Regions from separate parts of the Homo sapiens genome. Here regions 2 and 3 are each linked to region 1. The links come from fine-mapping of genetic effects on gene expression. A gene starts in region 1. Each other region holds a variant in brackets. All regions are shown on one strand. Distances are between the middles of the regions.

What was found. PIP is the estimated chance that this variant, and not a neighbour inherited with it, causes the effect.
Region 2: its variant is the best candidate, but not a certain one, in a credible set for the expression of TMED3 in whole blood (INTERVAL, PIP 0.85).
Region 3: its variant is the best candidate, but not a certain one, in a credible set for the expression of TMED3 in tibial artery (GTEx, PIP 0.84).

What each region holds. Positions count from the first base shown.
Region 1 is chr15:79,308,698-79,312,940 of GRCh38, forward strand. TMED3 (transmembrane p24 trafficking protein 3) reads left to right here and starts at 2,415. Exons shown (of 3, transcript NM_007364.4): 1 at 2,415-2,720. The coding sequence starts at 2,553. RefSeq lists silencers at 2,259-2,308, 2,519-2,588.
Region 2 is chr15:79,494,888-79,499,130 of GRCh38, forward strand. No RefSeq gene overlaps it. Among named protein-coding and RNA genes, the nearest start is that of MINAR1, 65 kb to the left of the region's middle. The variant C/T (reference allele first, on the strand shown) is at 2,446.
Region 3 is chr15:79,228,410-79,232,652 of GRCh38, forward strand. The region is part of intron 1 of ANKRD34C-AS1 (ANKRD34C antisense RNA 1); the gene reads right to left. Among named protein-coding and RNA genes, the nearest start is that of MIR184, 21 kb to the left of the region's middle. The variant C/T (reference allele first, on the strand shown) is at 1,625.

The DNA of each region.
Region 1 (4,243 bases):
TGAGGTATGGGTAGAGGCAGTGTGTTTAGTGGGAAGCTGGTAGTCTTCAGAATTAAGCAGATCTGGGTTCACTTTCTGGCTTAGCCATTGACAAGCTGAGTGAGTCTGGATACTATAGAAGATGGCTTAACAGCCATAATTCCTTCCATCCCAGTATGACCCTCCTTTGCAATGTGACTTTGCAACTCCTCAAATCCAGAGGTAGATTCCATTTTTCCACCTCCTTGAATCTGGGCTGGCCTTTGAACTTGCTTTGGTCAACAGAATGTGGAGAAAGTCATACTGGAAAAGGTCTGAAGCTTAGGTCTCAGGGGCCTTGCTCCTTCTGCCTAGTTCCTCTTGGGATGCTGCCCTGAACCTGCCATATAAGGAAGTAATCTAGCCTATTAGATGTAAGAGGATGCTTGGAGGAGAACCGAGGTGTCCCAGCCAACAGCCTGCATGCTCTGACTAGAGCTTCTTCAATGTCAGCTCCTCCCCTGAACTTATGCAGGTGTTTTCTTGGAACTTAAATGTAAGACTTAACATTTAATCCGGAGGAATTTATTTTGATTTTTAGAGATGGGGTCTCCCTTTGTCATCCATGCTGGAGTGCAGTAGTGCAATCACAGTTCACTGTAGCCTCAGACACCTGGTGTCAAGCAATCCTCCCACCTCAGCATCCCAAGTAGCTGGGACTACAGACCCACACCACCATGCCTGGTTAATTTTTGTTTGTTTGTTTTTGTAGAAACGAGGTTTCACTATGTTGCCCAGGCTAGATTCGAACTCCTGGCTTCAAACAATCCTCCTGCCTCAGCCTCCCCAAATACTGGGATACAGGCATGAGCTATGGTGCCCAGCCCGAAATTTCTTTTTGTTAGTCTTAGCAGAGCACTCCACCTGTGCCAGGGCAATCGTGTTTTTTTTTTGTTTGTTTGTTTTGTTTTTTTGAGACGCAGTCTTGCTCTGTCGCCAGGTTGCAAACTCCACCTCCCAGGTTCAAGCAATACCCCTGCCTCCCTGCCTCAGCCTCCCGAGTAGCTGGGACTACAGGCACGCACCACCACCCCCAGCTAATTTTTGTATTTTTAGTCGAGAAGGGGTTTCACCACATTGGCCAGGATGATCTCGATCTCTTGACCTCGTGATCCACCCGCCTCAGCCTCCCAAAGTGCTGGGATTACAGGCGTGAGCCACCACTCCCGGCCAATTGTGGTTTTATATCTGTCATTTATTTCTCCACTTAGTTCATCTAGATCAGATGATTATTACTTCCATGTTTTCTATCAGTTCCTAAAAAAAAAAAAAACGTGAAATAGGACCGTGCCAGGGAAGGAAGCTTAAGGGACACTACTAAACACCTCTTCCATGCCTGTCACTGAGCCAGTCAATATTATTAACTATGTTATGCATGCATGTTATTTCCAAGCCTACAGATTGCTTTCACACATTAGCGTGTTCATCCATAGTGAATGTGGCCAGCGGAAATCTATATGGGCAGTAACATTCTTTCCTGAAGTCAAGATATACCACGTCTAGTAATGCTCTCCTGAATAAGTTATTTATTGAGTATCGACATCACAATCTACGTCTTTTCTCTTTGTTTATTGGATCACAGTGAATATAAAACTATACCTATAGTTACGATTATACAAAAGAATCTTAAGTCAGTGGTCATGGGTAAGACAGTAAACCAATTTATCTGCTTTCAGAGCTTTTAAGAAGTCAAAGTGCAAAAATGACAGTTTTGTGCAAAAAGAATTTTCAACGAGCCTGACAGCCAAAATATACCTGAAGTCGCTGCGAGACTTTACTTGGATTTTCATGAGATCGTTTGTGTGTGAGCACGCTCGTGTTTTTCCCAGAGCAGGTGTAATGATGGGTCTTTACTTACTCTCCCCACTCCCCACCCCCTTCGCACACTCTTTCACCTTGGGAAGGGTATGGGAATGAAGAAAGGAGTGTTAATCGGGTTCCCAGCGTTCCCTTATCTTTCACCTAGCTCCCTAACTACTGTGGATGTTAGGTTTGGGCACACCCATTTCAAGACAAGGAGACTGGTTCTCGAGGGAAGTGTGAGACTGAAGTTACAGAGCCTGTCAAAAGCGGAGCCTTATAGAGGGAGTAAAATCCCACGTGCTTCGTGCTGCAGCAGCTGGAGGGTGGACCTGGGTCGACCTGGGGGGATGCTCAGCCCTGCGGGTCCGGGAGCGCGCAGAACAGCGGGGAGGGCTTCTCCCTCTTCTGGGTAGGGGCGCGCTAGGTGGAGCCCCACCTCCCCTCCGCGGAGACCCACCCTCCGAGCCGGGAGAGGCGTTGCGGGGGGGTGGGGGGGGCGTGTCCCCTGGCGCAGCGCGGCCAGCGCGCACGCGCAGCGGGCGGAAGGTGCCCGGGCCCACTTTGAGCGCGCGGCTGCGCACTGAGCCGCCGGCCCTCCCGGAAGCGCAGAGCTCCGCTGGTGCCACGTCTATCCCCTTACATCCTCCTAGGACCCGGTCGGTAGTCGTCGCCCCAGCCCGCCGGGGGCGCAGCGCCCGAGCCGCGGCCCTCGAGACGGGACCGAGAGCATCATGGGCAGCACTGTCCCGCGCTCCGCCTCCGTGCTGCTTCTGCTGCTGCTCCTGCGCCGGGCCGAGCAGCCCTGCGGGGCCGAGCTCACCTTCGAGCTGCCGGACAACGCCAAGCAGTGCTTCCACGAGGAGGTGGAGCAGGGCGTGAAGTTCTCCCTGGATTACCAGGTGAGGCCGGGCGCCCGGCAGCGCTCCCTTCTCCCTCCACTCCCAGGTCTCACCTGGACACTGGCTAGCCCCTGACTGGAGGCGCTCGAATTAGCCACAGGCTACAGGGAGGCTGCATGGGGTGGGAGTCCCCGGAGACCAGTTGACTTCCCCGTGAGGAGGAAGGTTTGGGTCATCAGGGCCCACCCGAGACGAGCCTGGCCAGCGAGGAGGTAGTCAGCGCCGCAGGTGCGAGCCCGGGATGGGGACGCCAGGGCGGATCCCGCAGCCTGGGGAGCTGGCCAAAGAGATATCCGCAGGCCCCCGAGACACTAACCAACGGCAGTTCTGATCGGCTGGACACAGGCTCTCTAACCCCAGTCTCTTAGACCACCTTGTGCCTTCGAGTACTGAAAAATGGCAGCAAGAGGAAGTGGGCTCATAGTTTTAGTTTATTCCTCCCCTCTCCAGCGTTTAAAGTTGGAGTGAGGTGAGGGCAGCAGAAGTGAGAATGGGCACTTTGGAAAGGAGGGATCAGTGCAGCCATTGAGGCCTGGCGGTGTTTACAAGGAGCGGTGTGGCTGCAAGACTTGGCTCTTGCCATATGGCTTAGAAAAGCTCAGTTCCTGTATTCCTGTCTCCTTTGAGAGATCCCGTGGCCCACAGGTGACAGGAGCAGGTCTTGAGTGAGTAGTCTGCCCCGATATTTAGTGAGCAGGTCTAGGGTTGGGGGCCAAGTGGGCATCATACTCAGACAGCTATCTGCTTGTGGACGCATGCTGATAGGCACTTCAGAAATGAGGGGCCACGGGCAGCAGGAATGGGGGCAAGCTATTTGACCAGTTCCTCTGTGGTTAGAGGCACTGAAGGAAGCTTGCGCTTGGAGACAACTTCTATGTGGTAGTCTCAGTCACTGATTTGTCCACTTTCAGGTCTTTGTGGACAACATGCAAATTGTGACTGGGTTAACATGGGCAACCTAGGTGCAATGACAAAAAGAATGATAATTCTGTGGTTGCAGGGACCTCAGATGTCATCTGGTCACTGCCAGGGCGGAAATCCCTTGTCAAAGTGTGTCCAGCCTGGGTTTAAACACACTTAGCAACAGGATACTCACTGCTTTTTGCAAAGCTTGCTGAGCAGGACTAGTAACTTTTGTCCGGACAAAGAGGCCATTTAAATTTGGAAGCAGATGGAGGCCATTGACCGTGTCCTTTGATGGATCTTGGTTATAGCCATTGCCTACCTGTGAGATTTTGCTTTATGTGGGTCTTATTTTTCTTATGTTACAAGGAGAGTTTGAACTAAATGATTCCCAAAGACTCTTCCACCGCTGACACTCAGAAATTCCATGAATACTTCGATCAATATTTTTCTTCTCCTTGCATTCAGTCATTAATAATATATTGTTAATAGCTACTTGACCCATTCAGCAAGCCAAGAATGACCCTTGCTGGTGGGGGGAGGGGGAACACCTGTCTGTTATTGGAACGGAGAAGCAGGAGGTGCAGCATGCATGCTCTAGGGTGGCCCCCAAATCAGAT
Region 2 (4,243 bases), 190 kb after region 1:
GAAGGTCAGTGTTTGAAGGAGAAGTTGACTGATACAGTGAAGGGCGAGGGACTTCAGCCCGGATGAGGGGCTGCCCAGATGGAGGAATTAACCTTGGCAGGAAGAAAGAGAGAGAAGTGAACGCATACCAAGCACAGACTGGTGCCCCCAGTACCAGTCTTGGCACTCCTCCATTCTTTATCTCATTTATTTATTTATCTGAAATATAAATGATCTCATTTGACAGATAAGGAAATTTGGAATCAGAAAAGGTGCCTGGCCTCCCAAATCCACACAGCCAGAAGGTGACCAGGCAGGAGGCAGACCCATGCCTGTTGACTCCAAAGCCTGTGTGATTTCTTCCTTGACGTGCTGCCATTTACTGCTGGGGAAGTGGGAAGCAGGGGGAGGGGGAATGACCCAAGGATGTGGGAGGTGGAAGGGACAGGGAAGCTAGGAATTTCATCATTTGCTGAGAGAGACAGGGAAGGGGGTAAGAGAGAGGGTCTTCAATAGCTGGGGTGGGGAACTCAGCAGGGAGCGGGGTGGGGCAGGCTCCCTGGAGGGAGCGGGGTGGGGCATGAGGGAGGGGGGTGGGGCAGGCAGTGCCCAAGGCCCAGCTGACCAGGGGCTCATGGGGCCCAGTTTCTGCCTAACAAAAGGGCTCAGAGCCCCAGCCAGGAACTGGGGGCCTCAGACTCAGAGGTACAGGGGAGGAGCCGGGACATTGCCTCCATTAGGAATTACGGAGTCTCACTTGTCCCTTCTCCTATTTTGGCCAGGGTGTTTCTGTGTGTGTTTGTGAGTTTAAGTGTGTGACTGTGTGAGTATATGTAAAGTGGGAATATGTGTGAGTGTATATATCAGTGTGTGTTACTTTATGTGTGAGAGAATGTATTATGTGTTGTGTGTGAGTATATGTAATTGGTGTGTACGTGTGTGTGATTGGGAGTACATGTAAGTGTGTGTGACTTTGGATCTGTGTGAGTGTATGTGTGACTGTGTTATACATGTGAGATGTGTGTGAATATGTGTGAGAGTGTACATGTGTCTGTGAGTGTCCGTGAGTGTGCCTGGGTGGTTGTGTGTGTGTGGGTGTGACAGTGTGAGTATATGTAAGGGGGTGTGTGAGTGCATGCACTTGGCAAATGGGAAAAGAGAAGCTTCCCTGGGCCAGCAGCTGGAATGCAAATGCATCCCTCTGAAATAAATCAACTGTTTGCACCATGGGCCACAGAGTCAGGCTGGCCTTGAGCATTTAACAGGCTTCCAGAGGCTCTCAGGCTCTGCTCCCCATGACCTGGTGCTCAGGGTCACCCCTTAGCATGGCCCCAGCCCCCTGAGCACAAAGACATCTCCGTGCAGGACTGAAGGGACACCTTTAGGTGGGAACTAACTCTCATAGAATACATAGATGCCTGCCAATCACAGTTGGGACTCTTCAGTGGGGTCTCCTGGCCCAAAGTGTACCTGTTTGCTGCATGTCTGAGTCTGCATAGGAAATCCTGGTGCTCAAAGAGTTATAACCTCATTTTTTTTTTTTTGGTTAATGAAGTACAAGTGGCAGGGGTTGAATTAGAGAGAGAGAGAGGCACGGGGTGTAAACAAGAGTTTTCTTGTTTACCTATATAAGGGATGTACTTCACTCATTCATCTATTCATTCATTCACTCTACAGACTTTATTGAACCCATGTAACGGGCCAGGGACTATGCTAGATGCTGGGAATAAAGCAGGGAACATTCAGAAGCCATCCCTGCTTCATGGTATGAGGCTCAGGAAAGGCACACACACTCTCCTCTCCACATTTGTGTGTAGGAGAGGAGAGGTGCGCTTGGACCTCATAACAAAAGGCTCTAACTTAGCCCTGGGGGTTGGTGGGGGAGCAGTGATGTAGGTGACAAGGGCTTTCAAAGAAGAAGCACTTTTTGGGAGTGAGAACCACCTTTGTGCTCTCCAATGTGCCCCTGCCCGTGTAAGACACCCTGCCTTTGGGAGGCCATACCCACAGGGAAAAAGACCTGATGCCCCTGCCCCCTTACCTCTCAGGAGCAGAGCTGCAATGAGCCTCCATCTCAGGATGAGGCAACAGGCCAACACCAACCCAGGACCCCAGTCTCACCTCTTCTAACTCCAGCCCACAGGCAGTGACCTTTGACTCATTCATGCCCCTGGGATTTGAGGATTCCAATTGTGTTATGCCACCTCCTTGCACTGATCCACCCACTCTGTGGCTGGATTCAAAGCTGAGTCTAACTTGCTTTCACAGATCCCAAGATGAACTTTCCATCACCTATTCACTAAGGTTTTGAAAGCCACCAATATTGAGTCTACGGCCACGCCACCCTGAACACACCCGATCTCATCCAAAAGCCACCAATCTTGAGATCTTAGTATGTAATGACACTGTGTTAAACCCCTTATATACATTATTCATTCATTAATTCGACTGATTTTTATAAAGCAC[C/T]GACTATGTGCTAGGCAGGGTTCTAGATGCTGAGAATACAGTAGTGAACAAAGCACACAATATTTTTACCCTAATTTAGTGAGGAGACCCATGATACAAAAAGGAGACAATGAACATATAACATAGTATCAGATAGTGATAAGTGACATTTGTCTCATTTAATACATACTCCATCTTTAAAAAGTAGGTGGTTTTATACCCATTTTATAGAAATAGAAACTGAGACTTGAGGCTCTTCACTATCACATAGTCAAGCCATTGTCAAAGAATAAAATGTTGCTTTCATTTACTCTTCTCTCCTCTCTCTTTTCTTCCTACCATCCCTGCTTTAGAAAAGGTAGGAGGGGAATGCTAAGAGTACAGAATCTGAGGGCTGGAGGGGCAATGCCCTGAAGCCACCCTGGCCATTCTCCTGTCCCGGGGTGGGGCTGCCCTCACACTTAGACAGAAACCATCTCTTCTCATTCTTAATGAGAATGTCATGCAGAACCCAATCAATAAGAGGTTCTCTGACACTAGAACGTCTTTTGTTTTTTCTCCCCACCTCTTGTGCTGACAAATGCATTAATGTAAAAACAGAAAAGAAAACCAAGCAATTTGTCACAGTGATATCTTCCCTCCTGGCCTTCATAATGAATTGCAGTGGTTAATCAATCACTCCCTTAACTCTTCTGTGGAGGCTTCCTTTTTAATGGGCCCCCAGACTGGATCCTTGAATTTGCTGTTTCCACAGACTGTGCACACGCATTATGTGTGGACTCAAGTGCTCCATAAGGGAAGAAAAATTACATTTCTAAGTGTATGTTTTGGGCACTATGCTGATTCCTTTGGATGCATTATCTCATCTTCTCCCAATCATCCTTCATGGGTGATCTTACAGGGCTGAAGAAAGATGACGTTTGTAGGCTGAGGTGACACAGCTTGTCAGAAGCAGAGTTGCAATGTGAACCTAAGTTTATATTTCCAAAGCTTCAACATGAATCATCTGCATCCTAGTTAATATGATAACCCTGGTTCCTATCAATTCAATTCATGTCCTTACCAGATGTTTACAAGCTTGTTCTCAAGGGCATAAAAATGCTTTGATGTTCTCTAAATCCCCTAACCTTAATTCCTATCATGTGGCTTTGTCCTTAGGATGGGAGCATAACAACTCATCTTATCTTGCAAGTCATTTAAAACACAGACTTCATAAGCTCACAGAGGTCCTCAAGCTCACCTGAGTCCTCATGCTGCAAAGCCTCACACATTCTCCTGAACAGGAGGTGGCAAGAAAATGTTAAAGACTTTTAAAAATTCAACCATATCACATAAATTAATTTATCAAGATGCTGCTGCTATTGGCTTACGATATTGATCAGTGCTATAGAAGCTAGCAAGTGCTTTAAAAAAATTGATGAAAATTTATGTTCAGCACTTTCATTACTCGTCCTCAATAACACAGTTGCCAAAGTGATTTGAAGAAGACTCAGGAATTGAGTATATTCATGTTCAATTAGGTTAAATATTTCCCTTGTATTCACTACCCATTTGCACAGCAATCCAATCCAAAGGAACCAAAATGAACTGTCGCACATACCCAATTAATGTTGTTTTAATTCCGAGACAAATAGGATCACAGTGAATTTCAACAAACTGTCCAAATTCTTTTATGTGAGTGTGCTAGGATGACTGGTGTGTGGAATTAGTTGGCTGTGGGCTGGAGCTTAGCAATTGTTTATCAGGCAAAAGTTCTGGTTATCATAGTGCTTGCTGTTACAGGATGGGACCTGGGTGTCACATTTTCTGTACTTATGAA
Region 3 (4,243 bases), 80 kb before region 1:
GAACTCGGAGCTGGGACCGAGAGAGGAGACAGGTGTGGAAAGGTGGTGGAGTATAGAGGAACACGTAAATTCCCTCTCCATAAAATTAATAAAAAAATTGAAATAGAAGACACGCCAGCAAGGAATAAATTGGTAGCATTCAACTAAATAAAGGATTACAAGCTTTTACCATAAATTTGAAAGGTATCATCAGAGATAGAAGCTTCTAGAAGTCAAAGCAGAGGCTTTCTCCACTGTTACAAAGCAGCACTTCTGCCACACATCTCACTCTGAAACTTCTATTTGAAGGCAACTGATGGGAATAGGTGAGTGGGAAGCCTAGGAGAAAGGTGTGGAGTGTTTCTCCTAGGTCAATGCTTCTCAACAAGGGAAGACATTTGGCAATGTCTGGAGACATTCTTGGTTGTCACAACTGGAGGTATGGAGGGTGCTACTGGCATCTGGTGGATAGAGGACAGGGATGCTGCTAGACATCCTGCAATGCACAGGACAGACAGTGCTCCACAACAAAGAATTATTCAGTCCCAAATGTCAATAGTGTCAAGGTAAAGATCCTGCCTTAGATGTAGAAGCCCTTATCTTCATTCTGCAGATAAACTGTATTTACTAGGAGAGGAGGAACCATTTTGTTTTTCTATGACTATTTACTCTATGTTTAACTGGCTATTTAAACACTATATACCAACTGAGTCAAAACCCAGCTATTGGAAATTTTTCTTTGTCTTTGATTTTTGATAGTTTGGTTATTATATATCTCGGTGAACTCCTTTCTGGGTTGGATTTAATTGGAGATCTCTGTGCTTCCTGTACCTGGATGTTGGCGTCTTTTCCTATATTTGGAAAGTTTTCAGCTGTTATTTTTTAAAACATGCTTTCTGGCTCTTTTTCTCTCTTTTCTCCTTCAGCAACTTTTATTATGTGAATGTTGGGTCTCTTGATGGTATCCCATAATTCCTGGAGGCTTTCTTCATTCTTTTTTTATTATTTGACTGGATAATTTCAAATGTCCTATCTTCAAGCTCACTGGTTCTTTCTTCTATTTAATCAAAATTTCTGTTGAAGCTTTCTATTAAAATTTTCAGTTCAGTTATTATATTTTTTATCTCTATAATTTCTATTTTTTATTGTTTCAATTTCTCTGTTAAATTTCTCATTTTGTCTGTGTATTCTTTTCCAAATTTCATTTAATTTTCTCTGTATATATTCTTTTAGTTCCCTGACCTTCTTTAAGAGGGTTATTCTGAATTATTTTTCAGTCATTTTATAGATCTCCATTTCTTTGGGGTCCATTGTTGCAGCTTTAGTAGGGCTTTCTGGATGTGTCATGATTCCCCGATTCTTCATAATTCTTGTGTCCTGTTATGGTTTGAGCCCTCTAAAAGTCATACAGAAACTGAATTCCCAATACCAATAATATTAAGACCTGTGGCCTTTGGGAAGTGATTGAGTCATGAGGGCTTTGTCCTCATGAATGAGATTAGGACCCTTATAAAAGGGCTTGAGGTTGAAGGGAACATCCCCTTGCCTTTCTGCCTTCTGCCATATGAGGACACAGCAACAGGCGCCATCTTGGAAACAGACAGCAGCCCTCACCAGAAACCAATGCCAGCTTCTTGATCTTAAA[C/T]GTCACAGCCTCCATATTTACAGCCTGCTAATTTTTGTATTTTTAGTAGGGACAGGCTTTCTCCATGTTGGCCAGGCTGGTCTTGAACTCCTGACCTCAAGTGATCCACCCCCATCAAGCCTCCCAAAGTACTGGGATCACAGGCATGAGCCACAGTACCAAGCTCTATGGTGCTTCTTAAACTGTTGCCAGAGATGGGAGAATCTTACACCACACTATACCAAACTCTGATACAAATGAAAGATAGAAAAAAGAAGGGAAAAAAGAAGAATTTACAGATTAATCTCAATTATGACAACCAATGCAAAAATCCTAAATAAAATATCAGCAGAGAGAAAGCATAAGACACTAAAAGAAAGATACACAAAGATAAATAAAGCCCAAGAATGTAAGCATGGCTCAATACTAGAAAATCTGATGCCAAAGAACTCATTTGCCATTGCTCAATCTTCATTTTAGGTTTTTAAAAAAATTAATAAAATAGATACTTCCTTAGCATTACAAAAATTTATAATCCTCCACCCCAAACAATCACAACTTAATGTAAAAAGCCAAAAGCATTCCCATTAAAGTCAGAAATAAGAACTCCTATTATCATACATGAGAAAGACATAAGAGGTAAAAAATTTAGAAAGGAAAAAGCACCTGGTTATAAATTTATATCAAAAATCAAACCTTCATTATTAGTAACCAGTTAGAAAATTTAACAAAAGATGTGTTAGTCCATTCTTGCATTACTATAAAGAAATACCGGAAGCTGGGAAGTTATAAAGAAAAGAGGTTTAATTGTCTCACAGTTCTGCAGGCTGTACAAGAAGCCTGGCACCAGCATCTGCTTGTCTTTTGGGCAGGCCTCAGGGAGCTTACATCATGGCTGATGGTGAAGGGGAGCCAGTGGTGTCACATGGTGAGAGCAGAAGCAAGAGAGAGAGAGAGGGGAGGGGCCACACACTTCTAAACAGCTGGATCTCGCATGAACTCAGAGGAAGAACTCACTCACTCATCGCCAAGGGGATGGTGGGTGCTAAGCCATTCGTGAGGATCTGCCCCCATAATACAATTACCTCTCACCAGGACCCTCCTCCAACACTTAGGTATTACATTTCAACATGAGATTCGGAGGGGACAAACACACAAACCATATCAGAAGAAAAGATGCCTTTTACAATAGAAACAAACTAAATATTTAGGGACAAATCTAATAATCAATGTTAGGGCCCTATGCTAAAAACTTTAAATTCCTATTAAAAGCCAGAAAAAATAATTCAGTCAGTGAAAACCTCCCTTGATTTTCTTTAGAAGAGTACTCAATAGAGCAGTTTCAATTTCTGAATGTAATCTCTAAATTCAGTGTGTTTCCAATCCAATTACCAAGAGAATTTTGTTTGAAATTTGGTAAGTTAAACTAAATTTTATCTGGTAGAATGAACACATAATTGGAATCAGAAAAAAAATTAAAAAATAAGAATAATGAACATGACTATGATACTATCAGGTATCAAAACATTGTCATAACCCACACAATAAAATACAAAAACAAAGACAAAACAAAAACATTGTTTAAAGCTACAGATATTTAATACAATATAATTTTAGGGCAGAAATAAACTAAGAGACCAGTGTAAGAAAATAGAGAGTCCAAAAATGAATTCAAGCACATATGGGAATTGAGTATTTGATTAAAATGGCATCGTTAAATTTATCAGCAAGGATGGGTTATTCCATAAACGGTGTTGAGAAAACTGGTTAGTTATTTGAAGGGGGAAAAATTGGATTTCTTACCTCATTCTTCATGTGCAAATAAATTCCATATGGATCCAAGAGTTAAATATAAAAATGAAACCATTAAAGCTAAATTAAAAGAATGATTACAGAGTAGTTCGCATAACTCTGCAAACAAATTTTAAAACTTGGATAAGAACAAAGGTGAATTTTTACAGCCTTAAGAGTATGATAAAAAACACTAGGAGACATATCCTCCCAGGGGACTGTGGGCCGAAAGAAGGCCTGCCAGGTGAATCATGAAGGCTGAGTTGAGGCCAGGTAGGTAGACAGGTGGGAATGTGTTCCAGCACAAGCTGGCCCCTAAAATGCCCTTCCCCATCATCCTTTGTTAAGCAAGATCCGCTTTCCCAGCTATTACCTGAAGCAGACATGCATGTAGTAAATAGTAGGCACAAATAGTTAGCAAGTACTAATACTGCTAAAAGACAACCTGAAAAGACAGACAAATCGGCTGTTAAAAATGACAAGAGGCCAGGCACAGTGGCTCATGCCTGTAATCCCAGTACTTTGGGAGGCCGAGGCGGGCGGATCACGAGGTCAGGAGATCAAGACCATCCTGGCTAACACAGTACAACACAGTGAAACCCCGTCTCTACTAAAAATACAAAAAAATAGCCAGGTGTGGTGGTGGGTGCCTGTAGTCCCAGCTACTCGGGAGTCTGAGGCAGGAGAATGGCGTGAACCTGGGAGGTGGAGCTGACAGTGAGCTGAGATCACGTCACTGCAGTCCATCCTGGGCAACAGAGCGAGACTCTGTCTCAAAAAAAAAAAAAGACAAGAAATAAAGAGGTTAGAAAAATGACTAATTGCCCACAAATGTCCAGGATACAGGAT